4 linked regions of the Homo sapiens genome follow. The protein of the gene in region 3 purifies or fractionates together with the protein of the main gene of each other region. This does not show direct contact. Each region holds a gene or a part of one and is shown on either strand. Other genes may lie near its edges. The genes, in order: H4C6, EIF4G1, CHAF1B and CBX1.

What was found.
Region 1: the proteins of CHAF1B (region 3) and H4C6 purify together in Homo sapiens (affinity purification with western blotting; 2 studies listed by BioGRID, with this or other methods). This does not show direct contact.
Region 2: the proteins of CHAF1B (region 3) and EIF4G1 purify together in Homo sapiens (affinity purification with mass spectrometry; 2 studies listed by BioGRID and IntAct, with this or other methods). This does not show direct contact.
Region 4: the proteins of CHAF1B (region 3) and CBX1 purify together in Homo sapiens (affinity purification with mass spectrometry; 4 studies listed by BioGRID and IntAct, with this or other methods). This does not show direct contact.

What each region holds. Positions count from the first base shown.
Region 1 is NC_000006.12:26,234,645-26,242,150, forward strand, and holds H4C6 (histone H4), read left to right. Parts: upstream 1-5,748; 5' UTR 5,749-5,781; coding exon 5,782-6,093; 3' UTR 6,094-6,149; downstream 6,150-7,506. Other genes in the region: H1-3 (histone H1.3), read right to left, coding at 1-289. UniProt on the Homo sapiens protein: Core component of nucleosome. Nucleosomes wrap and compact DNA into chromatin, limiting DNA accessibility to the cellular machineries which require DNA as a template.
Region 2 is NC_000003.12:184,331,606-184,336,762, reverse strand, and holds the end of EIF4G1 (eukaryotic translation initiation factor 4 gamma 1), read right to left. Parts: coding exon 5,157-5,157; intron 5,036-5,156; coding exon 4,954-5,035; intron 4,818-4,953; coding exon 4,677-4,817; intron 2,037-4,676; coding exon 1,855-2,036; 3' UTR 1,410-1,854; downstream 1-1,409.
Region 3 is NC_000021.9:36,401,344-36,410,629, forward strand, and holds part of CHAF1B (chromatin assembly factor 1 subunit B), read left to right. Parts: intron 1-1,414; coding exon 1,415-1,508; intron 1,509-7,417; coding exon 7,418-7,487; intron 7,488-8,030; coding exon 8,031-8,122; intron 8,123-9,286. UniProt on the Homo sapiens protein: Acts as a component of the histone chaperone complex chromatin assembly factor 1 (CAF-1), which assembles histone octamers onto DNA during replication and repair.
Region 4 is NC_000017.11:48,091,479-48,098,478, forward strand, and holds part of CBX1 (chromobox protein homolog 1), read right to left. Parts: intron 1-7,000. UniProt on the Homo sapiens protein: Component of heterochromatin. Recognizes and binds histone H3 tails methylated at 'Lys-9', leading to epigenetic repression. Interaction with lamin B receptor (LBR) can contribute to the association of the heterochromatin with the inner nuclear membrane.

The sequences.
Region 1 (7,506 bases), on a different chromosome or scaffold from region 3:
TCTGCACCAGAGTACCTTTGCTCACCAAGCTCTTGAGGCCAAGCTTGATACGGCTGTTGTTTTTTTCTACATCGTAGCCAGCAGCCGCAAGCGCTTTCTTAAGCGCGGCCAGAGAAACGCCGCTGCGCTCCTTAGAAGCTGCCACTGCCTTGGTGATAAGCTCAGATACTGGGGGTCCGGATGCTTTGCGTTTCCCAGCAGTTGCGCCTGCCTTCTTCGCCTTTTTCTTCACAGGTGTTTTTTCTGCGGGTGCAGGAATGGTAGGAGCAAGTGGAGCAGTCTCCGACATGTTTTTGTCTTCCCAGAAAAGACAATAAGTAATCTCAAACTGTCAGAACAGCATGTCCTCTACGAGGGAGGCTGAGGGTTTATATAGAGAGACGCTGAGTGATGATTGGTTCCTTGCTCCATGCGCGGCGCTGCTGGAAAAGGACTCCTCGTATCTACCGCGCTGCTGTGTTTGTTGCCCCTTAAAAAAGAGTAAAAATATAAGAAATCTGGGCATGAAATAATTAGAGACTTGGGGGAAACTGATCCGAGAGAGTTCGGGCTTCATTCCTGCCTTTGTTTCTATGCATAGTTTTAAAACCGGCATCTTGAAACTTTTCTTATTCCCCCAACTCTCTTTCAAACTTCGGTCAAATCGAGACAACTTTCATGTTTTCCTTAAAAATACTATTTCTCCCTCTTTCATTTGCAAATCTCTCTTCCAGGGCATTGTTCTGTGAATTCTTACCGTCTCAACTTTATATAGATAAACTCATTTTTATCCAAATGTGCAGGGAAATTGGGTTTTTTCGCAGGAACAATAGCACAGGCTCTCTGGCGAGCTGTTTGCATCAACCTCTAGGAATTGGCACTGAGGTAGAAAGTTCTATGTACAAGAGGGGTGATTAGTTTAGAAAAGATAGTTTAAAAAAAAAAATAGTATTTGAGTTACCAGTGTGTAAGCTGGATTTGATCTCCATATTTCAGTGGTTTAAACATTTCCAGAAAGATAAGGGTGAGGCTACATTATTCCTCTTACAGAAAAAAAAGTCCTAAGTAGAGTTACCAACCTTCTCTTAAAAGTTAGGATCATGGATTTTTCCGATCTAGAATGGGCATTAAAGATCAACTACCACATCCCCAAAAAAGAAAACTGAACCAACAAATAATAGAATGGCAGGCCAACATCATTTTGGCAACTGTGAGCATTGAGAGCTTGTGTACATGTTTGTGTCCCATCACTTTATAAATAATTTAATGAAATACACTATTTTTTTGCTAATATTCATCATAGAATTTTGTACATTTTTTATATTTTAAAATCATATTTATAATACAAATTTCCCTTCCTCTTTCTCTGTACAACCTGTTTGAATAACTGGTAAAAGTCACTTTAAAAAAATAAAATACAAATTTTCAACATTGCAAGTGTGGGCATCAAGGGTTAGAAAGAAAAATATCTGATTTAAATCACTGTAAATTTTCATCATTCTACTTGGCTTTTTACACACAAAATATGAACTAAGCTGTCACACCCTAAATTAATTGGTTGAATATGTCCACCTAAGGAGCTGAACAAACATTTCAAAGCAAACATGAGTAACTTCAGTATTCTTTATCTGTTAGTTTGCAATACAGCTGATGGAATTAGGTTATTATTAAATAATTAAGCACAAAATTGATATTCTCCATCAAGTAATCAGATGCTGAAATGAACTCCTATGTTGAAGAAACAAGAGAAGTAGTTTGATGTTATGTTTCTTCTAACAAAAATACTCATTTCAAAAAATCAAGTTATTCTGGCCTACACTCAATAGTGATTAGAGGATTTTTTCATATAAATCCTAGATAAAATAATCAACTTTAAAGATGTCATCTCTCCTCATTCAACTAATTTCATAAAAATTACTTAGCTTGTCTTGGCCAGGCGCAGTGGCTCACGCCTGTAATCCCAGCACTTTGTGAGGCCATGCTGGGCAGACCACCTGAGTCAGGAGTTCAAGACCAGCCTGACCAACATGGTGAAACCCTGTCTATACTAAAAATACAAAAATTAGGCGGGCATGGTGGCACACGCCTGTAATCCCAGCTACTTGGGAGGCTGAGGTAGGAGAATCGCTTGAACCCGGAAGGCGGAGGTTGCAGTGAGCCAAGATAGTGCCATTGCACTCCAGCCTGGGCAACAAGAGTGAAATTCCATCTCAAAAAAAAAAATTACTAAGCTTGTCTTAAGTAATTATTTACTCTCTTGCATGTATTAGAAACAAGTCTCTGGGACTTAAGACCGTGTTATACACCACTGAAATACAAATGTGGTTTATAAAAAAGCTAAACTTATAGAATTGGATTAGTAGGACCCCACAATTCCAGTAGGGAAGCATTTTATAGGTTTCTGGAGGCAGGGGCGGTGCATCATTATGGATATCATTTTCAACAGTGATAGTCACAAGCATACTCTAAGTATTTTTTTTTGGGACCATAGCTTTATATTGCCTAGACGTAAAGGTACAATTAAAATTCAGATTGTTTACTGTTTATTATTTTGATCATTATTGTAGTCTTAATAGTTGTTGAATAATTGTTGGAATTGTTCACCGTGTTAGATATAGTCAATTAACAGATGCCACCATTTCATTCTTGTGCAACACTGACTGGTTCCCATAGCTACTTAGGATCTCAGTAAGTAAAAAGGCATTGGGCTAACTAATCTCTGCTCTTTCTGGAGGGCAATAACTGAGACTCAGTTTCACCAACAAAGTTCGCCAGATGTTCAAAGAGGAAAGGGGCTAGGCTACATAAGTTGGGACCTGGTACTTATCTTCTCTGTAATTGTAGCAAGGACAAGGTTCCTGAAAGCTGGATCACCCCATGGACTGTAAACTTGAAGTCCTGCAAAGTTTCACCTATTACTTTGGTAGCCCTCAAAAAGAGTTCTGTGTTGCTTTGGAATCCTAAATCTGAATATAATCTAAAACAGTAGATTTCCCATTACACTGAGGTTGGAACCATTTATTTTATAGATGCAAAAAGTAGCTAGGAAAAACTAGTTAGATAAGTGATAGCTATCTAACTTAAGGCCCAGTGTTCTCTTCATTTTGTGTTAACTCCCCCATCCCCACCACCACCATAGTAAATGACTATGAGAGTTGTAGGTAGTATTCAATAGATCAATCCAGTGACACTGTGCTTAAGCATCACACAATTCAGATTTTAAAGATTTCCAAAAAAAAAAAAAGAAACTATATAGAATAAATATTAAAAGGGGTGAAAACATATATAGACTATTATAGAAAATAAAGCTTTGTGTTAGAATCAAACGTGTTCAAAAAGTCCATGAGAAATCACATCGATTGTAACCGTCTATGAGGTAGTCTTACCTGAGGACACTGGCTCCTTGAAATTCCTCTTCAAGTACAACAGTATTGTGTTAATTTTATTTCCTAAGAAGGCCACTACTATACTCAAACTTACAGTTTTCTCTTTACATGTCTCAGGCATCCACCAAACTCCCTCCTCCCTTCTAGACTGGATTAGAAGCTCTTCAGAAGAAACCCCCTTATCACAGATACAGCCCAATAAAACTTTCTGCGATGATAAAAATATTCTGTATTAACACTGTCCAATAGGTAGCCACTAACCATATGTGGCTACTGAGTACCGTAATGTGGCTAGAGTAAGTGTGCAAATTAATTTTTAATTTAAATTAATTTAAATAAAAATGAGCACATGTTGCTAGTGGCTAATATAGGACAGCAGAGCTTTAAAACAATTATTCTCAAACTTGGAAGAGCATACCTACCACCCACTTAGAGATCTCATTAAAAATGTAATATCAATTCCATTGATTTGGGGTTGGGCCCGAAATTCTGTATGTCTAACAAGCTTCAGAGTGATGCCAGTATAGCTGGGATATGGCTGCTCCGCCCTTAAATACCTGACAGTAAGTAGAAGTATGCTGGTCTGATATCTGCCCCCTAACCCTGAGTGTACTTTTCCCTTTACTAAACTTTTGAGTTCTTTAAGAGAATAAATGTGATTATCTTTGTAAACCTGGTATTTGTACACTATTCTTGGCATGTAGTGGACATTAAATTGTTGAATGAATGAATGATGCTTGTTTGGTGCCTACCTCAAAAAGGAGAGCACTTGAGATCCTTGTGTCTATTCCTACAGGTAACTGAACCTAAGCCAAAATTTAAGTAGACTCTTAACTCCACAAAATGAATAATCTTCTCACTGCTTTTAGGCACCAGCAGAGACGGGATTTTTAAGTTACCCTTGCAGTATATAGGAGGCAATGAATGTGAAGCAGTAGACTGTAAGAGTTAATGTTGAATTTTTCTACTACACATACCCTATGATCTGTGTGTAGAACACTTCTTCCGGAATCTTTTATTAGGACAGTATTTCACAGAATTTATTAGTATTATTTTTGTTAATTTACAAACCTTTATTCACCATGATTTACCATGTATGCTTTAGTGGCATGAAAGCAGTGGTAGGTAGCAAGGTAGTGAGACTCCAGAATCGAGCCAACAATACAATGCCATTTATTAGAGGATAATGTCTTCAAGCCTGGGATTCCTTATCTTTACACCTCAGATATTGCATTATACATTGAAAAACTAAGAATGAAACTTCAATTAATATTGGTTTCCCTTACTAGAGGTCTTTCTTTATTAGGAATGCCAAAAACGATGTGAATGTATATGTCTCTGCCAAACGCTAAGTCTCATGATTGGCCAAATTTAAGAAGTATTGCTACATTTTAAGAATTAATAAAAATGGCCGGGCGTGGTGGCTCACGCCAGTAATCCCAGCACTTTGTGAGGCCAAGGTGGGTGGATCACCTGAAGTCAGGAGTTCGAGACCACCCTGGCCAACATGGCGAAACCCCGTCTTTACTAAGAAAATACAAAAATTACCCAGGTGTGGCGACGCGTGCCTGAAATCACAGCTACTCGTGAGGCTGAGGCATGAGAATCGCTTGAACCCAGAAGGCGGAGGTTGCAGTGAGCCGAGATAGCGCCACTGCACTCCAGCCTGGGCAACAGAGTGAGACCCCGTATCAAAAAAAAAAAATTAGTAAAAATACATTTTCAAAGAATCTTCACATTTAAAAATTAAAGCTAGGCGCCTGTAATCCCAGAACTTTGGGAGGCCGAGGCGGGTGGATCACCTGAGGTCAGGAGTTCGAGACCAGCCTAGTCAACATGGCGAAACCCCATCTCTACTAAAAATACAAAAATTAGCCGGGCGTGGTGACGCGCGCCTGTAGTTGCAGCTACTGCAGGGGCTGAGGCAGAAGAATCGCTCGAACCCGAGAGGCGGAGGTTGCAGTGAGCCGAGATCACGCCACTGCACTCCAGTCTGGGGCAGAGCAAAACTGTTTCAAAAGAAATAATAATTTTATTCTCTTGTCTATCCATTCGGTAGACAAGTGTAGCGTTACTGCCTCCTTTTTGCAAATAATAAGGATTTTAGGAGACAGACATTATCAGTTCGAGAGCCCACAGGCACTGGACTAGAAGACACAGAAACCTACACTCAAGACCCAAACAAGGAAACAGGAAGGAGTCAAATCAACTTGCATTTCCCCTACCCTCACCGCCCCCTTTCCTTCCCAAGGCAATAGTGTAGGGGACGCCCAGTAAGTTACGGAAAAGGCGGAGACAGAGGTTTCGTTCCCGCCCCTCCAATTCAGTCTCCAAAAAGGTCCGCATAATTGATATATAAGGGGCTTCAGTGTGTAGCAAAGTTGCAAAAGTTAAGAGTTGTTGTTTGTCTTCGATCATGTCTGGTAGAGGCAAAGGTGGTAAAGGTTTAGGAAAGGGAGGCGCCAAGCGCCATCGCAAAGTGCTGCGTGACAACATACAGGGCATCACGAAGCCCGCCATCCGTCGCTTGGCCCGACGCGGCGGCGTGAAACGCATTTCGGGCCTCATTTATGAGGAGACCCGCGGTGTTCTTAAGGTGTTCCTGGAGAATGTGATACGGGACGCCGTAACCTACACGGAGCACGCCAAGCGTAAGACAGTCACTGCAATGGATGTTGTCTACGCGCTCAAGCGCCAGGGACGCACTCTGTACGGCTTTGGTGGCTGAGCCTCACCCCGGCTTTTTATTTAACAGCTCACCCATAAAAGGCCCTTTTCAGGGCCACCTCCTTCGTCACACGAAGGGCTGTAACTGATGACGACTTGGGTTTCGTTTTGTAAATTTGGGATTCTAACTGAGTTAAACCGAGCCGTTTTTAGCGATCTTCCTAAGATGGCGGATGTGCTAAGGAGAAAGGGAAGGCGAAACATTAGAAACTTGTTCAGGTATTTCGATCGCAAACATTCACAGGAAAAGATGGTGGAAATGGTTTGGGAATACCAGCAGCCTTTTATGACGTATGTGATGTGTTTTATTCCCACGTTTCTGAAATTTACTCCTATGTTAGGTGGCTGGGACTTAACTACACTAGCATTACATGTTTAGTTTTTGAGATGGAGTTGCTCTTGTCCAGGCTGTAGTGCAATGACGCAATCTCGGCTCACCGCAACCACCCCCTCCCGGGTTTAAGCGGTTCTCCTGACTCAACCTCCCGAGTAACTGGGGTTACAGGCATGCGCCACCACGCTTGGCTAATTTTTTATTTTTAGTACAGAAGGGGCTTTTCTGTGTTGGTCTGGCTGGTCTCGAACTCCCGACCTCAGGTGATCCGCCCTTCTTGGCCTCCCAAAGTGCAGGGATTGCAGGCGTGAGCCACCGTGCCCGGCCTTAGTGTTATTTATTAGGCATAGAACGTGAGTAATCTTAGGGCGGCTGTGGACAGATCAATTACTGGTAAACTTAATCCACTACTTGTGTCCGGGCGCGGTGCCTCAGGCCTGAATCACAGCACCTTGGGAGACCACGGCGGGCGGATTACTAGAGCTCAGGAGTTCGAGACTAGCCTGGGCAACCAAAATGGTGAAACTCCGTCTCAACTAAAAAAGTTAAATAGGAAAGTTAGCCCGGCGTTGTGGCGGACGCCTGCTGTCGCAGCTAATCTGCAAGGGCTGAGGCAGGAGAATCGCTTGAGCACGGGAGGCGGAGATTTCAGTGAGCTGAGATGGTGCCACTCCACTCCTGCCTGGGCGACAGAGACCATGCCTCAAAAAAAAAAAAAAAAAAGTAAAGTTTGGCCGGGCTCGGTGGCTCATGTCTGCAATCCCATCTGTAATTCCAGCAGCTTGGGAGGCCGAGGTGGGTGGATCACTTGAGCTCAACGAGTTCGAGACCAGCCTGGCTAGCACTGCAAAACCTCGTCTCTACTAAAAATACAAAAATTAGACGTAGACGTGGTGACACGCGCCTGTAGTCCCAGCTACTCGGGAGGCTGAGGCAGGAGAATCACTTGAACCCGGGAGACTGAGGTTGCAGTGAGCCGAGGTCGCGCCACTGCACTCCAGGCCTGGGGCACAGAACAAGGCTCCGTCTCAAAAAGAAAAAAAAAAGCCCAAGTTTTTGTCTTACCCAGTGAATTCTTTG
Region 2 (5,157 bases), on a different chromosome or scaffold from region 3:
GATTTGTTTTTGCTGAGTGGGGGCAGGACATTAAAACAACTGTAATAGGTGAGAGGTGATTCAGTGTTCACAGGTGCCCCAAACGGGACCTCAGTCCCCCTTCGCCGACTGACTGAAGAGGGGAGTCAATGTCCGACAAAAATTCTGTGGTAGGGTGCTTAGCCAGGACCGAAAGGCTACCTCTTTAAGAAGATGGGGACACGGCTGGGAGAAGCAGGTTCCCAGCACAGGGCCACTCCCAGGACTGTGAAGGCAGAGGTGTAGGCGGAGGGGAGTGTGTGTGTGGGCGCGCAAGGCCAGTCGCCGAGGGCTGGAGTGGTGGGGGCATCGGGCTGCCCAGCCCCTCCCGGGGCTGTGCGTCTCCGGCCACCCTGAGCAGTGGGCACACGGCAGCCAGCGGCGAGACCATGCGTCTGCCCTGCAAAACCCCAAGGCAGGCAGGCCGTGGGAGCGAACCGGAGTCGGTCTGGCCCCTTCCCTGCTCATTCCCGCTCCCTCCTGTTGCCTGGCCCGCCTCCCGGTGCAGGCTCCTCCCTCTCCCGACACCGGCCCCCTCCTCAAGGCCCCCACCCACCCGCGGCCCGCGCACCGGCGGCCGCAGCCCGACTCCCCAACCCGTACCCGGCCTCCGCCTCTTACCCTGACCCGCCGGGCTCCGAGAGCCGATACAGCCCATGGCCGGGCACCCAGGCACGCTAGCCTGCGCTCGGGGCGCGGGCCATCGCCTTGCAGAGGGTAGGGTCGCGGCCACACTGGGGAGGGGAGAGCCCGTGAGAGGGGAGGGGTGGGAGCCGCGCGTCCGCCGCCGCTCCCCGGAGAGGGAACCGGGCCGGTGACGTAAGCGCGGGGGCGTGACCGCCGCGTCACCACCCAAAGTAGGCGGGGCGCAGCGACGTCACAGCCACGCAGAGGCGGCCTGGACCGGGTTCGAAAATGCCGGTCCTCTCCTCCCAGAGCCGACTGCCACCTGAAGGCAGGGGCGGCGAACACTCACTAAGCCAGCCCAGTCACACTACACGGGGTCGCAAAACCTCCCTTCATGCATCCAGCCCCTTCATTTTACAGATGACACCTTCAAGCCATAAAGGGATTCTCCAGCTATAAACAACCCGAAACCCAAAAGCCTTCCCCACACAGGGGCTTGAATCATTCTGGTAGGAGAGCAGAGCCTAGCAAGGATGTCCTATCACTAATCTCCCTTTTCTCCGGACCAGGAAGGCACCTATCAAGCCCATCTGAGGGCCCAACCTTCCAGGAAACCTCAGATCCCTGCAATCATGGACAGGGGAAGAGGCAGGAGGGGTGCCAGGTTACAGGGAACAGCGCTACAGTACCAGCTCTGGGAAGGATCCCCACCTATAAACACCTTCTCTAGAGGGAGCAGGGCATAAAGCAGAAAGGCAGTGAGCTTAATTGAATTCATGTTTAATAATTACAGGCACCGTGCCCCCCCTTCCCCCTGCCCAGGCAACAGCAGGGGTGGTACAGGGGCTGGGGCATATGCCCCCAGCAGCGAGGACGGCAGTCCCGAGAGTGATTTTCAGAAAATAAAAAAAAGGACCCCAGGGGCAGGCGTTGGTGCCCCTCCCCACCCCAAGACACACCAAATTTCAAGACTTTATATATAATATATCTCTGTGCCCCAGGGGGAGGAGAGGGACACCTGGCGGCATCCTGGAGGGGGGCCCAGGCAGCCCCAAGCCATCCTGCCTCTTCAGCCACTTTATTAGTTCAGACACATCACACTACAGGCACCCACTGCCACCGCCGCTGCTGCCGCCCCCCTGCAGTCCAGGCGGCTAGCCGGGCCATCTGTGTGTCCATGGGGCTCCAGGTCCCCGGCCCCACCAGCCCTCAGTTGTGGTCAGACTCCTCCTCTGCTTCACGGAGCCACTTGAAGAAGGCTGTGACAGATTTAAGGGCCACACCCTTGCCCTGCTGCTCAGCGGGGTCCTTGCTACTCTCCCAACTGTAGAAGGCATCCTCCTTCACCACGTCCTCGTCATACAGTGCGTCAAAGAACATCCGCAGCAGGTCTGCAAGCAGGCGGGACAGCAGTTAGAGGTGACTGGCCACCGCCACCCCAGCCCACCCCAGGGAACCCTCCCAAGTTCCACTGTTCAAACAAGGCCCTGATGCACCAGCCTGACATTTGTGGCCATTCCAGAGTGACTAGGCCTCTGACAGGATGCTAATCTCATGATCTGAGACTGCTGCACAGCAATGAGTCACTTGGCCATCAGAAAAACCTTACAAACTTGCTTGGCCTCACCTTGGCAGCCTGAAACCTCTCTGCCCATGATGTATTTAATGGAGAAAACTATATTCAGAATTGGTACTCCTGAATTCAGGAAATCGCTAAAAGTCCTATATATATCATACATAAAGTCCTATATATATCCTACATGTAACCTGAACATTCACTGCCCCCCAAACAGATCCTGACAACTCCTGATCTCAATTTCCCTTCCTTCCCCACACATTTCCTGTACATACACACCTTCTCTGGCCTTGACACTTTTGTGGATGCTATATCCTTTGCCGGAAACTTCCTCGTGTCTTGTTCCTTCAGGACTCAACTCAAGCATCACCTGTTCGGGCCCTCTTTCTCCTCAACCCCTAGCTGCTGGGTAGCCTTCCCAAGCAACGTGTCCTATAACCCCTGAAACACAACCGACCCCAGTGCCCACAAGGCACCACCAGTCTTTCCAAACCAAACCTTACACTTCTAAGCCATCTATGAGATGCTGCCAGCCAGGATGTTCTGCAGGGCATGCCCAGCCTCAAAGTCACAAACTGCCTAGGGGCACAGTCACCTGCTACCCCCACCCCATAGCAATGGGCCATAGCAGGGCAGAACCTTCACTTAACCCGTACCTACACTCCAAATCCCACACATACCCACCCAGGGACCCCATCCAATCGATTATGCACTCTGCCCTGTATTTTCAAGCCCAAGTTTCTCTAACCTAAAAACAAAAAGCCCTGTTTTCAACCACTATCTTACAGCTAATAAAATATTTTGTCTACACTTGATGTTTTCCCTTCTTTCTGTCTCACTTAAGTATTTCTCAGTCCTTTCCAATCCAGAATCTGTCCCCTGCCCCACTAAATACTGTTTTTGCCAGGGTGGCCTCTATGTTTTTATATTCCAAACATCCTGCATTTTCAGGCCCACTCCTACAAACGCTCACAGCAGCATCTGGCATTATCAACCACATCCCTCTCCTCAAATTTCTCTGTCCTTGGTTCAGAGGGGCCTGTCCTCCTTTGGTCCCTACCAGTATGTCCGCTCTACCTCCTTGGGGCTGTATCTCAGGCCCTTATCACTCTCCCTCAGGCAAGCCCGTATCCTCTTATGACTTGCACATGAGTTACCCTGTGCCGGCATTTCACAAAGCTGCCTCCTGCCCTGATCTCTTCTTTTCCAAAAGGACCCAGATACCCCAGCTATTGAGCTGACATCTCGATTCCCTTACTCAAGGACCACAACTCAACTTGATCCACCGTTGCCTACCCCAGCAAATGACATCACACTATGGCCTCTAAGCCCACTGTGATTTAAAAACCATCCTGGGAGTCATCCATGACTTCTAATCTCTCACGGCCCCCTCCCCAGACCAGTGTAACCAAAAGCTGCCAACTCCATTTCCTAAGTATCTCTTGATCTGCCTACTCCTCTCCACCATCACCAGCAAGGCTGAGCCACTGGTGCTAACACTGCCACATCCACTCTCACCCCATTCCAAACCACTCTTCCCTCTATTGCCAAGATGATCTAAAAACTAAAATCAAATTCCTTTATTCCTTGCTTAAAATCCCACAAAGGCGTTTTCTTGCCCCCAGGCTAAAGCCCCAGACTCTGGCCATGGCTTACACCCGGCCCTGTGTGGTCAGGCCCACATCCCTCTCTTCGGCCCCATCTTGCCTCACTTAGGACTGGTTGCTGTGCTCTCCCACACTGGCCTTTCTTTAATAGTTCTTTTCCCTGTGTCAAGTTCTTCCTACCATAGGTAGAAAGAACACACATAGTGCCTTCGCTTCAAACATTCTCCCCCTCCCCTTCCCAGTTGTTGTGGAGTGAATTACCACTCATTACCCCTCAGACCAGGTGTCCTCCCTCCGAGAGCACCCGTCTTCCCAGGCTCATTGCTCACGCCAGTACTAACTCCAGGCCAGCACAGGAAATTGCTCGGCTTCCTCTCTGTGAGCATGCCAATGCCCTGACACATACCTATGTTCTGAATGCATAACCTGAGACATGTTCACTGAGACCTCAGTCTCCTCATGTGGAAAATAGGGGTAATACCATCCACCCTAAACAACATTTGTGAGGACTACATGAGGCAAGGTAAGCAAAGCATTTCAGCCCTGTGCCACGCCGTGGGGGCACACGGTACTGGGAAGATCCTATCATTTATCACCTCTGCACTGTTGGCATCAAACACATGGCTAGGCACAAAACAGGCAATTACCCTTCAAGGCTGTGTCTAACTCCTTCCACTTGTAGGAACAACACAACACAAACGTAAAAGGAAAGAATGAAACCCAGAGGGCATTTTGCTCTCTAATGACTACCTACCTTTCTTGGATTAAGACCCTTCCATGAAGGGTCTCATGCCCTGCTATCTGGCAGTCCCTCCACCCCACCCCTGTCCCCATGGCCTGGCTCTTACTGGGAGGCTGTTCTAAGGTCACTACAAGGGCCTGGAGGGCGTAGAGCGCCTGTAGCTCCTTCTGCTCGTCACACAGGTATTTCTGCAGCAGCTTCGCTCGCGCTTTCAGCACTGCAACGTCCACTCGGAGGGGAGTCTCAACTACAAGAAGACAGGGATGAGTGGAGCAATATACCCTTACCCCGGTTCAGAACTGGGAGGCCAAGGCTGACACCCACCTCCCTCCACTTGTCTGTCAGGCCCACCCTTGCCCCTCCATCTCCCTGGTTCCTCTTACAAATAATTGCAGAATAGCAGACAGCCGTCATGAGGGCTCGAACTAACGTGTTGGATACTATCTGCTGCTCACTCAGGTTGGCCTGTATGGGAGAAACAAATGATCCCCAGATTCTGAATTGGGCCCTTCAGTCTTCATTCTTGCTGCCCCCACCCCCACCCTAAGAACTACCTTTCCTTTATCGATATCCAGGAGAAACCTACC
Region 3 (9,286 bases):
TTATATATAATATATTTTTATATTATACATAATATATATTTTTATATTATACATAATATATATTTTTATATTATACATAATATATATTTTTATATTATACATAATATATATTTTTATATTATACATAATATATATTTTTATATTATACATAATATATATTTTTATATTATACATAATATATATTTTTATATTATACATAATATATATTTTTATATTATACATAATATATATTTTTATATTATACATAATATATATTTTATATTATACATAATATATATTTTTATATTATATATAATATATATTTTTATATTATATATTTTATATATATAAAAATATATCTATTACATATATATATATATGAATAGTAATGCCGGCTTCCTTGTGTTCTTAAGAATTAAATGCTTGTTTGTTTGTTGAGACAGTGTCTGGCTCTGTCACCCAGGCTGGAGTGCAGTGGCACGATCTTGGCTCACTGCAACCTTTGCTTCCTGGGTTCAAGCGGTTCTCCTGCCTCAGCCTCCCGAGAAGCTGGGATTACAGGCGTGTGCCACCACACTTAGATAATTTTTGTATTTTTAGTAGAGATGGGGTTTTGCTATGTTGGCCAGGCTGGTCTCGTACTCCTGGACTCAAGTGATCCGCCCGCCTTGGCCTCCCAAAGTGCTGGGATTACAGGTGTGAGCCACCATGTCTGGCAAATGCTTGATGTTTATAAATAGTAGTAAAAACTGTCCCAGACAGGTGTTAAAGAAATGTTGTTTTAAAAGATTAATGATTACCAGTTTAATAATCCACTATTTTCTTTTTTTAAAGGGTGCATTTGTTAATAGCTGGATGTGGTGGCATGTGCCTGTAGTCCCAGGAGGCTGAGACGGGAGGATTGCTTTGAGCCCAGAAGTTCTAGGTTACAGCGACCTATGATTGCGCCACTGCACTCTAGCCTGGGTGACAGAGCGAGACTCTGTATCTAAAGAGTGCATTCAGTTGGAAATTCTAATGAATCCACACAGATAGAAAGCAGAGGTCTCCTGGTCATCTTCCCACTGTCTGCCAGTCTCAGGCCCCAGACATGCCACTATTGACCCTGTGGTTTGTGTTCTTAAGAGTTTTTAAAAATAATTTTAGAACCACATAAAACACACATATATACATATAGCTTTACCTAACAAAAATGTGTGGTCAGTTTTCATGAATGTTTACCCTTGCAGTGTTGTACAATTATTTGATTTGTAATGTGTTTCAGTTTCATTTATGATTATGTCAACAATAAATGACACTATGTAAAGAAAACCATAGGCACATATAGCAGTTGGGAAGCGTTTATTTGTGAGTGTAAAGATTTGGAAAAATGTTTAAGCTTTGTGTGTAGAAAACAAACAAAAAAAATAATAAAAATAAATTTTGTGTGCGACAGGCAAGAAGCTACCGGATGTTTCACGACGACAGCATGAAGTCTTTCTTCCGTAGACTGAGTTTCACTCCCGACGGATCTTTGCTTCTCACGCCAGGTGTGTTTCGTAGCTTTGGACTTAAAGGAATGATGGCCGAGTGGGGATGTCTGCTCCCGTTTTACGCTGCAGCTTATCAGCTCAGTGAATGCTGATTAGAGTGGGGGTCCCCGACTTACCTGCCCATTGGAACCTCCAGGAGAGCTTCAAAAAACACATTGGTGCCTATGTCCCATCCCTAGAGATTGTAGTGTATGTAATTGGTCTGGGTGGCCTGGCTTTTGGAATTTTAAGAAGATTTCCAAGTGATTGTAATGTGCAGAAAAGTTTGGGAGTAATGAGTTTAAAATGATAGGCATTTTCTCTTAGATAAATTTAACTTTTGGCTGGGCACAGTGGATCACACCTGTAATCCCAGCACTTTGGGAGGCTGAGGCGGGCGGATCACTTGAGGTCAAGAGTTCATGACCAGCCTGGCCAACATGGTGAAACACCCTCTCTATTAAAAATACAAAAATTAATGATGTGGTGGCGCATACCCTGTAATCCCAGCCACTTGGGAGACTGCGGCAGGAGAATCGCTTGAACCCAGGAGGCAGAGGGTGCAGTGAGCCGAGATCACACCACTGTACTCCAGCCTGGGCGACAGAGTGATATCTTATCTAAAAAAAAAAAAAAAAAAAAAAAAAGAAACTTTACTATTTAAACCCTTTCAATGAATGCTTTTTCATTCATTAACATGTGTATGGAAGCCATAGCGCTAAAGCCAAAGATAAAGCTCCTTTATTGTTTTTATTCTCCTCAATAAAGCGCATTTGTGACAGGATTAGACTCATGGACAAACTTGTGGAAGCAGCAGTGGTCAAAATCAAAAGGTCAGCCAAGTAGCAAGGACTAGATAGGTTTATTGTCCCTATGTCCCTAGGAAGGCAAGGGGCTCAGCCCAGCAAGATAAGGCTAGGCATTATTGTGGCCACAGTGTTCTCAGAGGAGAATGTCTGCTCATTGCCGTGGCTCCAGGACCATCCTGTGCATAGAGATGACAACATAGCCCAGGGTTGGGCCAAACGGGAGGGCACTGTCTTGGTTTGCCACTGAGTCCCATCCCAGCTGAGCCAGGGAGGGCCTGAGAAGGGCGTGAATCACACATGCAGCTGTGTGGGTGGGGCTTTAAAGAACACTGCGGAACATGTGCGAATGACACTTTGGCCCAAGAAGTCTCAGGACTAAGAATAAGTAGTTGTTTAGGTTATATTTACTAAAGTTAGTTATTAAAAGTTATTCACTAAACCCAGTAATAAATCCTTTTTTTTTTTTTTTTTTTTGAGACTGAGTTTTGCCCTGTTGCCCAGCTGGAGTGCAGTGGCACGATCTTGGCTCACCACTGCAGCCTCCGCCTCCCAGTTTCAAGCGATTCTCCTGCCTCAGCCTCCTGAGTAGCTGGGATTACAGGTGTGCGCCACCACTCCCAGCTAATTTTTGTATTTTTAGTAGAGACGGGGTTTCACCATGTTGGTCAGGCTGGTCTCAAACTCCTGACCTTGTGATCCGCCTGCCTTGGCCTCCGAAAGTGCTGGGATTACAGGCTTGAGCCACCACGCCCGGCCCTTTTTTTTTTTTTAAATTATTTATTTTATTTATTTATTAATTTATTTATTTTGAGATGGAGTTTCGCTCTTGTTACCCAGGCTGGAGTGCAATGGCACGATCTCGGCTCACAGCAACCTCCGCCTCCCGGGTTCAAGCCATTCTCCTGCCTCAGCCTCCGGAGTAGCTGGGATTACAGGCATGCGCCACCACGCCCAGCTAATTTTGTATTTTTAGTAGAGACGGGGTTTCTCCATGTTGGTCAGTCTGGTCTCGAACTCCGGACCTCAGGTGATCTGCCCACCTTGGCCTCCCAAAGTGCTGGGATTATAGGTGTGAGCCATTGCGCTGGCCTTTTTTTTTTTTTTTTTTTTTTTTTTTAAAAAGCAGAGTCTCGCTCTGTCACCCAGGCTGGAGTGCAGTGGCACCATCTTGGCTCACTGTAGCCTCCACCTCCTGGGTTCAAGCGATTCTCCTGCCTCAGCCTCCTGAGTAGCTGAGATTACAGGCGCCTGCCACCACAACCAGATAATTTTTGTATTTTTAGTAGAGATGGGGTTTCGCCATGTTGGCCAGGCTGGTCCCAAACTCCTGACCTCAGGTGATCTGCCCACCTTGGCCTCCCAAAGTGTTGGGATTACAGGTTACAGGTGTGAGCCACTGCGCCCAGCCCCAGTAGCAAATCCTTTACTATTTGGCCACTCTAAAAATATTTTCAATTAAAATCAAGTAGCAAATGGATGTCTGTTATCAACGTTATTGTTCTTTGTGGTGTTAGTAAGTGTGGGAAAAACAGGAAAATGAAATTACAAAGATTGGAAAAGAACAGATAAAAAACTGCAATAGGATTGTATTTCTAGAAAATCCAAGAGATTTTAAAAATAGTATTAGAATTTTTAAAATAATTTGATAAGATGGCTGGATATTATAAAATATATAAAAATTCCTATCTTTCGTCTATATTGGCAGTGAGTACTTAGAAATGGAAGGAGGAGAAATATTTCATTCAGAGTAGTGCAAAACCTGCAAAATACATAGAGTAAATTTATTTATTTATTTATTTTTTGAGACAGGGTCTCACTCTGTCACCCAGGCTGGAGTACAGTGGTGTGATCATGGCCCACTGCATCAGCCTTGATCTCCTGAGTTCAGGGAATCCTCCCACCTCAGCCTCCCTACTAGCTGGGACCACAGGCGTGTAGCACCATGCCTGGCTAATTTTCTTATTTTTTTGTAGAGACATGGTCTTGCTATGTTGCCCAGGCTGGTCTTAAACTCCTGGGCTCAAGCACCCCTTCCGCCTCGGCCTCCCAAAGAGCTGGGATTACAGGTGTGAGCCACCACACCCAGGCAGAAGTAAATTTAATGAGAAAGGGGCAGGACCTTTATGGAGAAGTCTAGAAGGTCTTACTGAAGGTTATAAAGCAAGTTCTGAACAAATGGAAAGATATGTCGTGTTCTAACAATTAACATACTAATTTCATTTCCAATTAGAATTGCATTAAAGTTTTTTTTTAATTGGATGAAATCTCAGCTTTGTTTAGTAGAATAAATGCTGAAGAATAGCCAAAGAAGTATTAAAAAAAAAACAGTGATACTTGGGAGGGCATTTGCCTCACCACATATCAGAAGATCCTATAACACTACTTTTAGCCAATCAATATGGTGTTGCTATAGGACCAAACAAATAGATTAGTGGACCAGAACACAGAATCCAGAAAAAGATCTCAGGATATAAGGCGATTTAATATATGACCTCAGGTGCTGTTCCAGTGGAAAAAAATCTATTATTTATTTGTAATTAATTGTATGTTACTTAAATAATTCTCAAGAGAATTAGACACTGAAGGCAGATAGGACAAGAGTATGTCATTAAGAAGGTTGGGAAGTGTTGAGATTGGACAAAGACCTATTCCTCTTTTTTTTGAGAGGGTTTCACCCTTGTCGCCCAGGCTTGAGAGCATTGGCGTGATCTTGGCTCACTGCAACCTCCATCTCCTGAGTTCAAGTGATTCTTCTGCCTCAGCCTCCCAAGTAGCTGGGATTACAGGCGCCGGCCACCATGCCCAGCTAATTTTTGTATTTTTAGTAGAGATGAGGTTTTACCATGTTGGCCAGGGTGGTCTCAAACTTCTGATCTCAGGTGATCCACCCGCCTCAGCCTCCCAAAGTGCTGGGATTACAGGCGTGAGCCACTGCACCTGGCCTCCTTTTTTTTTTAATTGACAGATGAAATTGTATGTAGTTGTGTATGACATGATGTTTTGAAGTATATATATGTTGTGGAATGACTAAATCTAGCTAATTAGCATAGCATGGTCTCACATAATTAGGATTTCTGTGGTTTGAACGCTTTATATCTCTTAGCATTTTTCAGGAATATAATACATTGTTATGAACCATAATCACCATGTTGTACAAGAGATGGATCTTGCAAAGGGAGGACTCTATTATTGAATGAGTAGTGCTGGGGTAGCCAGCTATGTGGAAGAAGGTAAAATTGGACCCCTTGCCTAGATGTAAAAAATAAATTCCAGGTGAATTCAGTACTTAAACACAAAAGGTAAAAATAGAAAACTCTTGTAAGGAAATATAGGAGGACATTCTAGGAATGGAGAAGACCCAATTAAGACTGGAAACTGGCTGGGCATGGTGGCTCAAGCCTGTAATCCCAGCACTCTGGGAGGCCAAGGTGGGTGGATCACCTGAGGTCTGGAGTTCAAGACCAGCCTGGCCAACATGGCAAAACCCTGTCTCTACTAAAAATACAAAAATTAGCCGGGCATGGTGATGCACACCTGTAATCCCAGCTACTCAAGAGCCTGAGGCAGGAGAATCGCTCCAACCCAGGAGGCAGAGGTTGCAGTGAGCCAAGATCGCACCACTGCACTCTAGCCTGGGCAACAGAGTGAGACTCTGTCTAAAAAAAAAAAAAAAAAGTATATGTTCAAGGATGCTTATTGCAAGCATTGTTTATAGTGGTAAAAAACCAAAAGCCAAAAAAATACTCATTAACAGAGGCTGGGTGAATGAATCTTGCAGTAAATATTATGCAGCTACAAAAAAATAATGCATCAGTGCTATGCAAGTTAACTTTCATGAGTAGTTGATTGAAACAAGCAAAATAAGGAGAAGTGTCAGTTTTGTAAAACAAATGGACTCAATAAAAAATATCATAGAGGTATACATGTGATTGAGTTATAACTGATTGTAATGATTATGTGAGCATGGAGGAAATATACAGATGACATAATGGTTTGTTGAATGTTAAAATGGATTTCTTGGGGATGGAAGAATGGAGTGGGATGAAAAGAGGGGCCTGGGTGCAGTGACTCACGCCTGTAATCCCAGCACTTTGGGAGGCGGAGGAGGGCAGATCACTTGAGGTCAGGAGTTCGAGACCACCCTGGCCAACATGGTGAAACCCCCTCTCTACTAAAAATACAAAAATTAGCCGGGCATCGTGGCAGGTGCCTGTAATCCCGGCTACTCAGGAGGCTGAGGCAGGGGAATTGCTTGAATCTGGGAGGTGGAGGTTGCAGTGAGCCAAGATCACGCCATCGCACTCCAGCCTGGGTGACAGAGCAAGACTCCATCTCAAAGAAAAAAAAAAGAGGGCAGCTATGTAGAATGTATTAATAATAATAATAAAAAAGACTATTGATACTGTCTACTGCCCTCCCTGGTGGATATGAAACAGTCATATGTAAAGTTACGTGTGTGTATATGTATCAAGAAATAGCATAAAACAGGGAGATGTTTCCAAGAGCAGCAGTGTATGATGGTCACTCTGACAGGGCTGAACTGTTTTAAGTACAGCAGGGGGTGAGTGTAGAAGAGCTCTCAGATGGGGACTGTTCCCCAGAGTGAAGTCAGGTTCTGAAGGAGGCTGGAGGTTTCAGCAGAGGGCAAGGTCTCCTGGCAGCCTCATGGCTGGATAGGGAAGTTGGGGAAAGGCGAGTCTCAGCCTTTGGATGGCATCCAAGGCTGGAATCCAGGAAATAGAGATGAGGGTCCTAGGGAGAAAGGAGCCTGGGCAGCTGAATCTAGTCACGGTGCTTCAATCGAGGAATTGCCTGGAGGCTCAACGGTGCCCTATGGCAAAGGCTCACTATGTTCTCCTCGCCCAAGATCAGAACCAGGTCCCCGGGGATTGCCCACAGGTAGGTGGAGATGACAGGTAGGTAGAACTGGAGTAAGGGCTGAGAACAGACAGTGCCGGAATATATGTTTTTGTGCTCTGTCACAACATTGTCCAGAGAATATAACTGCAGGGGGAAGTATTTTGCAAACCGGACCTGAAGGCTCTTGAGTTTCTGTTGGTGAACAGTTTGCTGAAACAGTGACTTTTCTTTCCTCTCCCTCCCTTCCCTGTTCCCCAGCTGGATGTGTGGAATCTGGTGAAAATGTAATGAATACCACTTATGTTTTCTCCAGGAAGAATCTTAAAAGGTATGCAGTCAAGGAAATGTTTGAAATGTTTACATTTTTTTTAGACGGAGTTTCGCTCTTGTTGCCCAGGCTGGAGTGCAATGGTGCGATCTCTGCTCACTGCAACCTCTGCCTCCCGGGTTCAAGTGATTCTCCTGCCTCAGCCTCTTGAGTAGGTGGGATTACAGGTGCCCGCCACCACTCCTAGTTAATTTTTGTATTTTTAGTAGAGATGGGGTTGCACCATGTTGGCCAGGTTGGTTTCAAACTGCTGACCTCAAGTGGTCCGCTTGCCTCGGCCTCCCAAAGTGCTGGGAATACAGGCATGAGTCATTGCACCCGGCTTGTATTTTTTTTTTTTTTTTTTTTTTAGTAGAGATGGGGTTTCGTCATGTTGGCCAGGCTGGTCTTGAACTCCTGACCTCAGGTGATCCGCCTGCCTCCTCCTCCCAAAGTGCTGGGTTTATAGGTGTGAGCCACCGCGCCCTGCCAAAATGTTTACCTTTTATTTTTGCTTTTGCTTAGTCACAGTGCCTTTTCCTAACACTGCAATTAATCCATTAGGCCCATCGCTCATCTTCCATGTCCTGGAAAAGCCACTCTTGCTGTTCGCTGCTGTCCGGTCTACTTTGAACTGAGGCCAGTGGTGGAAACAGGTATCCTCAGAGCCTCAGGGGTGTGTTATGTTTTCTCTCCGAAACAGGTCACCAGAGTGGGGTGGAGATTTGGATTCTGTCTTATGGGGAAAGGTGGGTATCTGGGTTTGGTTCAGTTCAGTTATTTTAAAAATATTTTATTTTTACATTTAAATCTATTTATTTATTTATTTTGAGACCAGGTTATCAGCCTGGTTAATTTTTGTATTTTTGGTAGCGACAGCGTTTCACCATGTTGCCAAGGCTGGTCTTGAACTCCTGGACTCAAGTGATCCACCTGCCTCGGCCTCCCAAAATGCTGGGATTACAGGTGTGAGCCCCTGTGCCCGGCCTGGTTTAGTTATTTTTAAAAGCTGGAGCAAAGACTGGGGTTATCAAAATACATGTCAGTTTTTTTTTTTTTTTCTTTCTTCAGGATATATTTTCTTGCTTAAGGCACTTTAAAAGGAATGGACGTACTCCTTTTGTTTGTCTATGTCTCTCATTATCAATTTTCTTTTTCTTTTTTTTTTTTTTGAGATGGGGTCTTGCTCTGTCGCCCAGGCTGGAGTGCAGTGGTGCAATCTTGGCTCACTGCAAACCCTGCCTCCCAGGTTCAAGGGATTCTCCCTCCTATCCTCCAGAGTAGCTGGGATTACAGGCGCATGCCACCACACCCAGCTAATTTTTGTATTTTTAGTAGAGATGGGATTTTGCCATGTTGGCCAGGCTGGTCTCGAACTCCTGACCTCAGGTGATCCACCCACCTTGGCCTCCCAAAGTACTGGGATTATAGGCGTGAGCCATCATGCCCAGCCATTTTCTTTGTTTTCTTGTGCTTGGGGTTCATTGAACTTCGTAGATCTATCCGTTTATAGTTTTTATTACATTTGGGAAGTTTCAGCCATTTTTCCTTCAAATGTTATTTCTGTTATTCCCTTCTCTTATTCAAATACTCCCATTACACATGTATTATATTAGGTCCTTTGAAATTAGTTCCTGGCCTTTGATACTACTTACTTTTTTTGTTTTTTTCTTCTTCCAGTGTTTGATTTTGGAAGTCTCTATAGCTGTGTTTTGAGTTTGCTAACCCTTTCTTCTGCATGCTCTGCCCTTGGTCCCATCCAGTGTGTTTTTCTTTGTTGTGGTTCTCATCTCTAGAGATTCACTTTGGGTTTTCCTTAT
Region 4 (7,000 bases), on a different chromosome or scaffold from region 3:
ATTCTCCTGCCTCAGCCTCCCAAGTAGCTGGGATTACAGGTGCCCGCCACCATGCCCTTTTTTTTTTTTTTTTTTTTTTTTTGAGACAGAGTCTCACTCTTGCCCAGGCTAGAATGCGGGGGCATGATCTTGGCTCACCGCAACTTCTGCCTCCAGGGTTCAAGTGCTTCTCCTGTCTCAGCCCCACCAAATAGCTGGAATTACAAGCACGCGCCACCATGCCCAGCTAATTTTTTGAATTTTTAGTAGAGACGGGGTTTTACCATGTTGGCCAGGCTGGTCTCAAACTCCTGACCTCAGGTGATCCACCAGCCTCAGCCTCCCAAAGTGCTGGCATTACAGGCGTGAGCCACCACACCAGGCCTAATTTTTGTATTTTTAGTAGAGAGGGGGTTTCACCATGTTGGCCAGGCTGGTCTCGAACTCCTGACCTCAGGTGATCCACTCACCTCGACCACTCAAAGTACTCAGGTTACAGGCGTGAGCCACCATGCCCAGCCAGATCTTTTTTTTTTTTTTTTTTTTTTTTGAGATGCAGTTTCACTCTTGTCACCCAGGCTGGAATACAATGGTGCCATCTTGACTCACCACAACCTTCGCCTCCCAGGTTCAAGTGATTCTCCTGCCTCAACCTCCCGAGTGGCTGGGATTACAGGCATGCGCCACCATGCCCAGCTACTTTTGTATTTTTAGTAGAGATGGGGTTTCTCCATGTTGGTCAGGCTGGTCTCGAACTCCTGACCTCGGGTAATCTGCCCGCCTCGCCCTCCCAAAGTGCTGGGATTACAGGACTGAGCCACCATGCCCGACCAGATCTTCTACCTTTTAATACTATCTATTAAAAAAAAAATAAAATTAGCGAGGCACTGTGGCTCACACCTGTAATCCCAGCAGTTTAGGAGGCCAAGGCAAGGGTTGTGGAGTGGTTAAGGCCATGAGTTTCAGACCAGCCTGGGCAACACAGCAAGACTCCATCTCTCTCTCTCTCTCTTTTTTTTTTTGAGAGGGAGTCTTGCTCTGTTGCCCAGGCTAGAGTGCAGCTATCTTGGCTCACAACCTCCACCTCCCGGGTTCAAGGGATTCTCCTGCCTCAGCCTCCTGAGTAACTGGGATTACAGGTGCCCGCCGCTGCACCTGGCTAATTTTTCTATTTTTAGTAGAGACAAGGTTTCACCATCTTTGCTAGGCTGGTCTCGAACTCCTGACCTCGTGATCCACTTACCTCAGACTCCCAAAGTGCTGAGATTGCAGGCGTGAGCCACCGCACCCAGCTGCGAGACTCTATCTCTAAAAGATTAATTAATTAATTAGGCCGGGCATGGTGGCTCAGGCCTGTAATCCCAGCACTTTGGGAGGCCGAGGTCGGCAGATCACCTGAGGTCAGGAGTTTAAGACTAGCCTGACCAACATGGAGAAACCCAGTCTCTACTAAAAATACAAAATGAGCCGGACGTGGTGGCGCATGCCTGTAATCCCAGCTACTCGGGAGGCTGAGGCAGGAGAATCGCTTGAACCCAGGAGGCAGAGGTTGCAGTGAGCCGAGATCACACCATTGCACTCCAGCCTGGGCAGCAAGAGCAAAACTCTGTCTCAAAAAAAAAAAAAAAAAAAGAAAAGAAAAGAAAAGAAAGAAACAAATTAGTTGGGCATGATGGCAGGCGCCTGTAATCCCAGCTACCCAACTACTTGGGAGGCTAAAGCAGGGAGAACTGCTTGAACCCAGGAGGCAGAGGTTGCAGTGAGGCCAGATCACGACACTGCATTCCAGCCTGGGCAATAGAGCGAGACTCTGTCTCAAAAATAAAATTAAAAAAAAAAAAAAAAGACACAGAAGACAGGTCTCGAAAAAAATTTACAAAAAGGTAAACAATGCAAGTTCAAGTGAGAGTCCGAAATGGCAAGCATACATAATTACCAAAAGCAGTATAAGCAATAAAAAGTAGCCATAAACGCACTATAGGAGGTTGGAGGAAGAACTGGCGAGGGCATCAGTAAACATTTTGAAAAGCTGAGTTTGAAACCAGGCTTTACTAGCATTTGAAAAGGTGTACTGGTAGGGCAATTTGGCTTCAGGAACTGTTGTAAACAAAGGCAATGTGACACATATAAACCAGTTTGGGCTGGAGCTGACTGAATAGGAAATATTTTCTACAAGGTTTCCTCCCATTTAAAACAAAAGGCCAAAGTCGTCAGTGTAACACTTATATTCTTCGGTTCTTATTCCAGACTAATTATGTCCCTTCTTCCCTCACAAAATCTACATTCCTGTCAAAGACTATAACCTGGCCACAACCTGAACATATCCTATGTTTCCTCCATAGCTTTGCTCATCTATTAAGTATTAAGAAGTGTGGGCTTAGGCCCGGCATGGTGACTCACGCCTGTAATCCCAGCACTATGGGAGGCTGAGGCAGGCGAATTACCTGAGGTCAGGAGTTCGAGACCAGCCTGACCAACATGACCCCATCTCTACTAAAAATACAAAATGAGCTGGGTGTGGTGGCGCATGCCTGTAATCCCAGCTACTCCAGAGGCTCAGGAAGGAGAATCGCTTCAACCTGGGAGGCGGAAGTTGCGATGCGCCAAGATCGTGCCACTGCACTCCAGCCTGGGCATCAAGAGTGAAACTCTGTCTCAAAAAAAAAAAAAAAAAAAAAAAAGAAGTGTGGGCTTGGTAGGGCGCAGTGGCTCATGCTTGTAATCCCAGCACATTGGGAGGCCAAGGCAGGTGGATCACTTGAGGTCAGGAGTTCAAGATCAGCCTGGCTAAGATGGTGAAACCCCAACTCTAGTAAAAATACAAAAATCATCCAGGTGTGGTGGCACATACCTGTAATCCCAGATAGTCAGGAGGCTAAAGCAGGAGAATTCCTTGAACTTGGGAGGTGAAGGCTGCAGTGAACCAAGATTGTGCCACTGCACTCCAGCCTGGGATACAGGACAAGACTCTGTCTCCAAAAAAAAAAAGTGTGGGCTGGGCTCTGTGGCCCACACCTGTAATCTCAGCACTTTGGGAGGCCGAGGTGGGTGGATCCTTCAGGCTAGGAGTTTGAGACCAGCCCAGCAACATGGTGAAACCCCGTGTCTACTAAAAATACAAAAAAAAAATTAGCCAGCATGGCGCACCTGTAGTCCCAGCTACTCAAGAAGCTGAGGCACGATAATTGCTTGAATCCGGAAAACGGGGTTAGGATGCAGTGAGCTGAGATCGCGCCACTGCACTCCAGCCTGGGTGACGGACCAAGACTCTGTCTCAAAGGAAAAAAAAAAAAAAAAAGTGTGCTCCTGACTGGGCTTGGTGGCTCACACCTATAAATCAGTACTTTGGGAAGTCGAGGCGGGTGGATCACTTGACGCCTGGAGTTCAAGACCAGCCTGGCCAACATGGTGACACCCCATATCTACTAAGAATACAAAAATTAGCCAGGTGTGGTGGTGCATGCCTGTAATCCCAGCCACTTGGGAGGGTGGGGCACAAGAATTACTTGAACCAGGCAGGCAGAGGTTGCAGTGAGCCAAGATCTTGACACTGCACTCCAGCCTCAGTGACAGAGCAAGACTCTGCCTCAAAAAAAAAAAGAAAGAAAAAAGAAAGTAGTGTGCTCCTGTACAGGGCCAACAGTCAAAATCCTATCCATTCTTCAAGACCCAGCTTAAAAATGCTACTTTCTCCATGAAGCCTACCCAACCTAGCTAAATAATATTTCTCTTTTCTTTGGGGTTCCCAAAGCATTCTGTTTCTATTTTTACTTGCACATACAATTAAAGGTAGGTCTGGAACCTGAACAAGTTGTTGAACCCTATATGGACAATAAAGATGGATGTCTCAGGTGGGGCGCGGTGGCTCACGCCTGTAATCCCAGCACTTTGGGAGGCTGAGGCAGGCAGATCTCCTGAGGTTGGGAGTTCGAGACCAGCCTGACCAACATGGAGAAACCCCATCTCTACTAAAAATGCAAAATTAGCTGGGCATGGTGGTACACGCCTGTAATCCCAGCTACCTGGGAGGCTGAGGTTGCGGTGAGCTGAGATTGCACCATTGCACTCCAGCCTGGGCAACAAGAACAAAACTCCATCTCAAAAAAAAGAGGATGACTGTCTCAGAAGCATCAGGGAATAGAATTCCAAAGCTATAAGCTTTTAAGGGAATAAGCAGCAAGATAAATCTGATCCATAAGCCCTAAAGAGAAAACAAGAAAGAAGTACCTTTTGTTGAAAGAATCAGCAACTACATACCAATCATCAAAAGGCAGGTGAAGGCATGTGTAGTATATTCAGGTGGTAGTCTTGTTTCTAAACTGCTTGTAGTCTGTAAGCTGTGGCTGTTTGCGAAGCAAATGCTTTCCAGATGGAAAACTTGACTAAGCAGAAAACAAGAACTTATGCCACACACAGTTAGCAGGAGTTTCTTTTTTTTTTGGAGATGGAGTCTTGCTCTTTCACCCAGGCTAGAGTACAGTGGTGCAATCTCGGCTCCCTGCAACCTCCGCCTCCCAGGTTCAAGCAGTTCTCCTGCCTCAGCCTCCCGAGTCACTGGGATTACAGGCATGCACCACCACGCCCAGCTAATTGTGTATTTTTAGTAGAGACGGAGTTTCTCCATGTTGGTCAGGCTGGTCTTCAGTTCCCACCTGAGGTGATCCACCCATCTAGGCCTCCCATAGTGCTGGTATTATAGGCGTGAGCCATCACGCCCAGTCAGGAGTTTCATTTTTAAAGGAACACCAGCCCTTGAATTCCAGAGGATCAAAGGCTAGAATGCTGGTGTGCGAATACATTTTGAATTTTATCTGAGATGTGTTCTGAAACTTGGAAAACCCCTTGAGTATGTTGACATGGATATTTTGACACAGATTTTTGGGTTGAGAGGCCACAAGAGTCTACAAATGTTAGTATGGACACAGAGATACCTCAAGCTATCTTTCAAAGGTGAATTTAAGATAAAATAAAAGTGGTTAGAAAGCTAGACCAGAATTATGACTACATTGGAAACGTATCAGAACACCACAGTGGCCAGGCATGGTGGCTCACACCTGCAATCCCAGCACTTTGAGAGGCTGAGGTGGGTGGATCACTTGAGGTCAGGATTTCAAGACCAGCCTGGCCAACATGGTGAGACCTCATCTCTACTAAAAATACAAAAAAAGTTAGCTGGGCATGGTGGTGTGCACCTGTATTCCTAGCTCCTCAGGAGGCTGAGGCAGGAGAATCACTTGAACCCGGGAGGTGGAAGCTGCAGTGAGCTGAGTGGAGTGCACCACTGCACTCCAGCCTGGGTGACAGAGCAAGACTTGTCTAAAAAAAGAAAAGAAAAACAAAAACCACCACAGTGGGCCAGGTGCAGTGGCTCATGTCTGTAATCCCAGTACTTTGGGAGGGTGAGGTGGGAAGATTACTTGAGGCCAGGAGTTCGAAACTAGCCTGGGCAACATAGTGAGTCCCTGCCTCTATTTATGTGAGAAAAATAAAAGTTCAAAAACCCCCACCACAAGTTGGGCGTGGTGGCTCACGCCTGTAATCTCTGCACTTTGGAGGCCAAGGAGGGTGGATCACCTGAGGTCAGGAGTTGAAGACCAACCTGGCCAACATGATGAAACCCCATCTCTACTAAAAAAATACAAAAAATTAGCCAGGCGTGGTGGCAGGCGCCTGTAATTCCAGCTACTTAGGAGGCCTGAGGCAGGAGAATCACTTGAACCGAGGAGGCGGAGGTTGCAGTAAGCTGAGATTGCGCCACTGCACTCCAGCCTGGGCAACAAGAGCGAAACTCCGTCTCAAAAAAAGAAAAAAAAACGCCACCACATTGTACCCCATAAGGATACACCATTCTTGTCAGTTAAAAATTAATACTATAGGCTGGGCGCAGTGGCTCACACCTGTAATCCCAACACTTTGGGTGGCCGAGGAGGGTAGATCACCCGAGGTCAGGAGTTCAACACCAGCCTGGCCAACATGGCAAGACCCCCATCTCTACTAAAAATACAAAAATTAGCCGGGCGTTGTCGGGGCCCCCTGGTAGTCCCAGCTACTCCGGAGGCTGAAGCAGGAGGATCGCTTGAACCTGGGAGGCGGAGGTTGCAGTGAGCTGAGATCGCGCCACTGCACTCCAGCTTTGGCGACAGAGCGAGACTCTGTCTCAAAAAAAAAAAAAAAAAATTAATACCATAGTTCTGTTACGCACTCAAAGTGTCAACTATTATTTTAAAAGGCACAATTTCACAGACAAATTAGGTTGCCCCCTTCTGGTCATCAAAGTATAAATGCTAAAGGCAGGAAAGATTTAATACAAGTTATTCTATGCAAATATTGACAAGATCTAAATTTTGTCCATATCTGAGTAACTTCTCCAAATAACCTTGGAAAGGCTATTCAATTTTTCAACAGACATTGCTACTGGTAAATTATTGCTCAGGTCAATACAAAGGACACAGAAGATTTTTCAAGATTCTTTTAAAACAGATATATTCAAGCTATTTGCTTGCTGACAAAACCCAGAATCTGAGGCCTGAGGTATTTAAAACGGCCAGTTGCACAGCCTGTATACCTTTTCTATATTTAGTACCAGAGTGAGTACAAAACTGAAGCTAACCATTCTGGGCAACAGAGACTGTCCCCACAAAAAAGAAGCCATGCATGGTGGCATGAGACTGTAGTCCTAGCTACTCAAGAGGCTGTGGTGGGAGGACTGCTTGTGTCCAGGAGGTTGAGGCTTCAGTGAGCCATGATGCCACCACTGCACTCCAGCCTGGCAACAGAGCGACACTCTGTCTTAAAAAAACAAAAAACAAACAAACAAACAAACAAAAAGAAACTAACTGAGGCTAAGACAAACATGGCAAAGCAACAGCTTAACTCTGCCAAATGTCACAGACACAGGACAAGCAAACTACTATGCACATTAATTTGGCTGAGTTCTCAGAATGGATCTCAAAGCTCCCCTATTCATCATTCATTCATCAACAATCTGAACGGCCTACTATGTGCCAGGCACTAATGAACA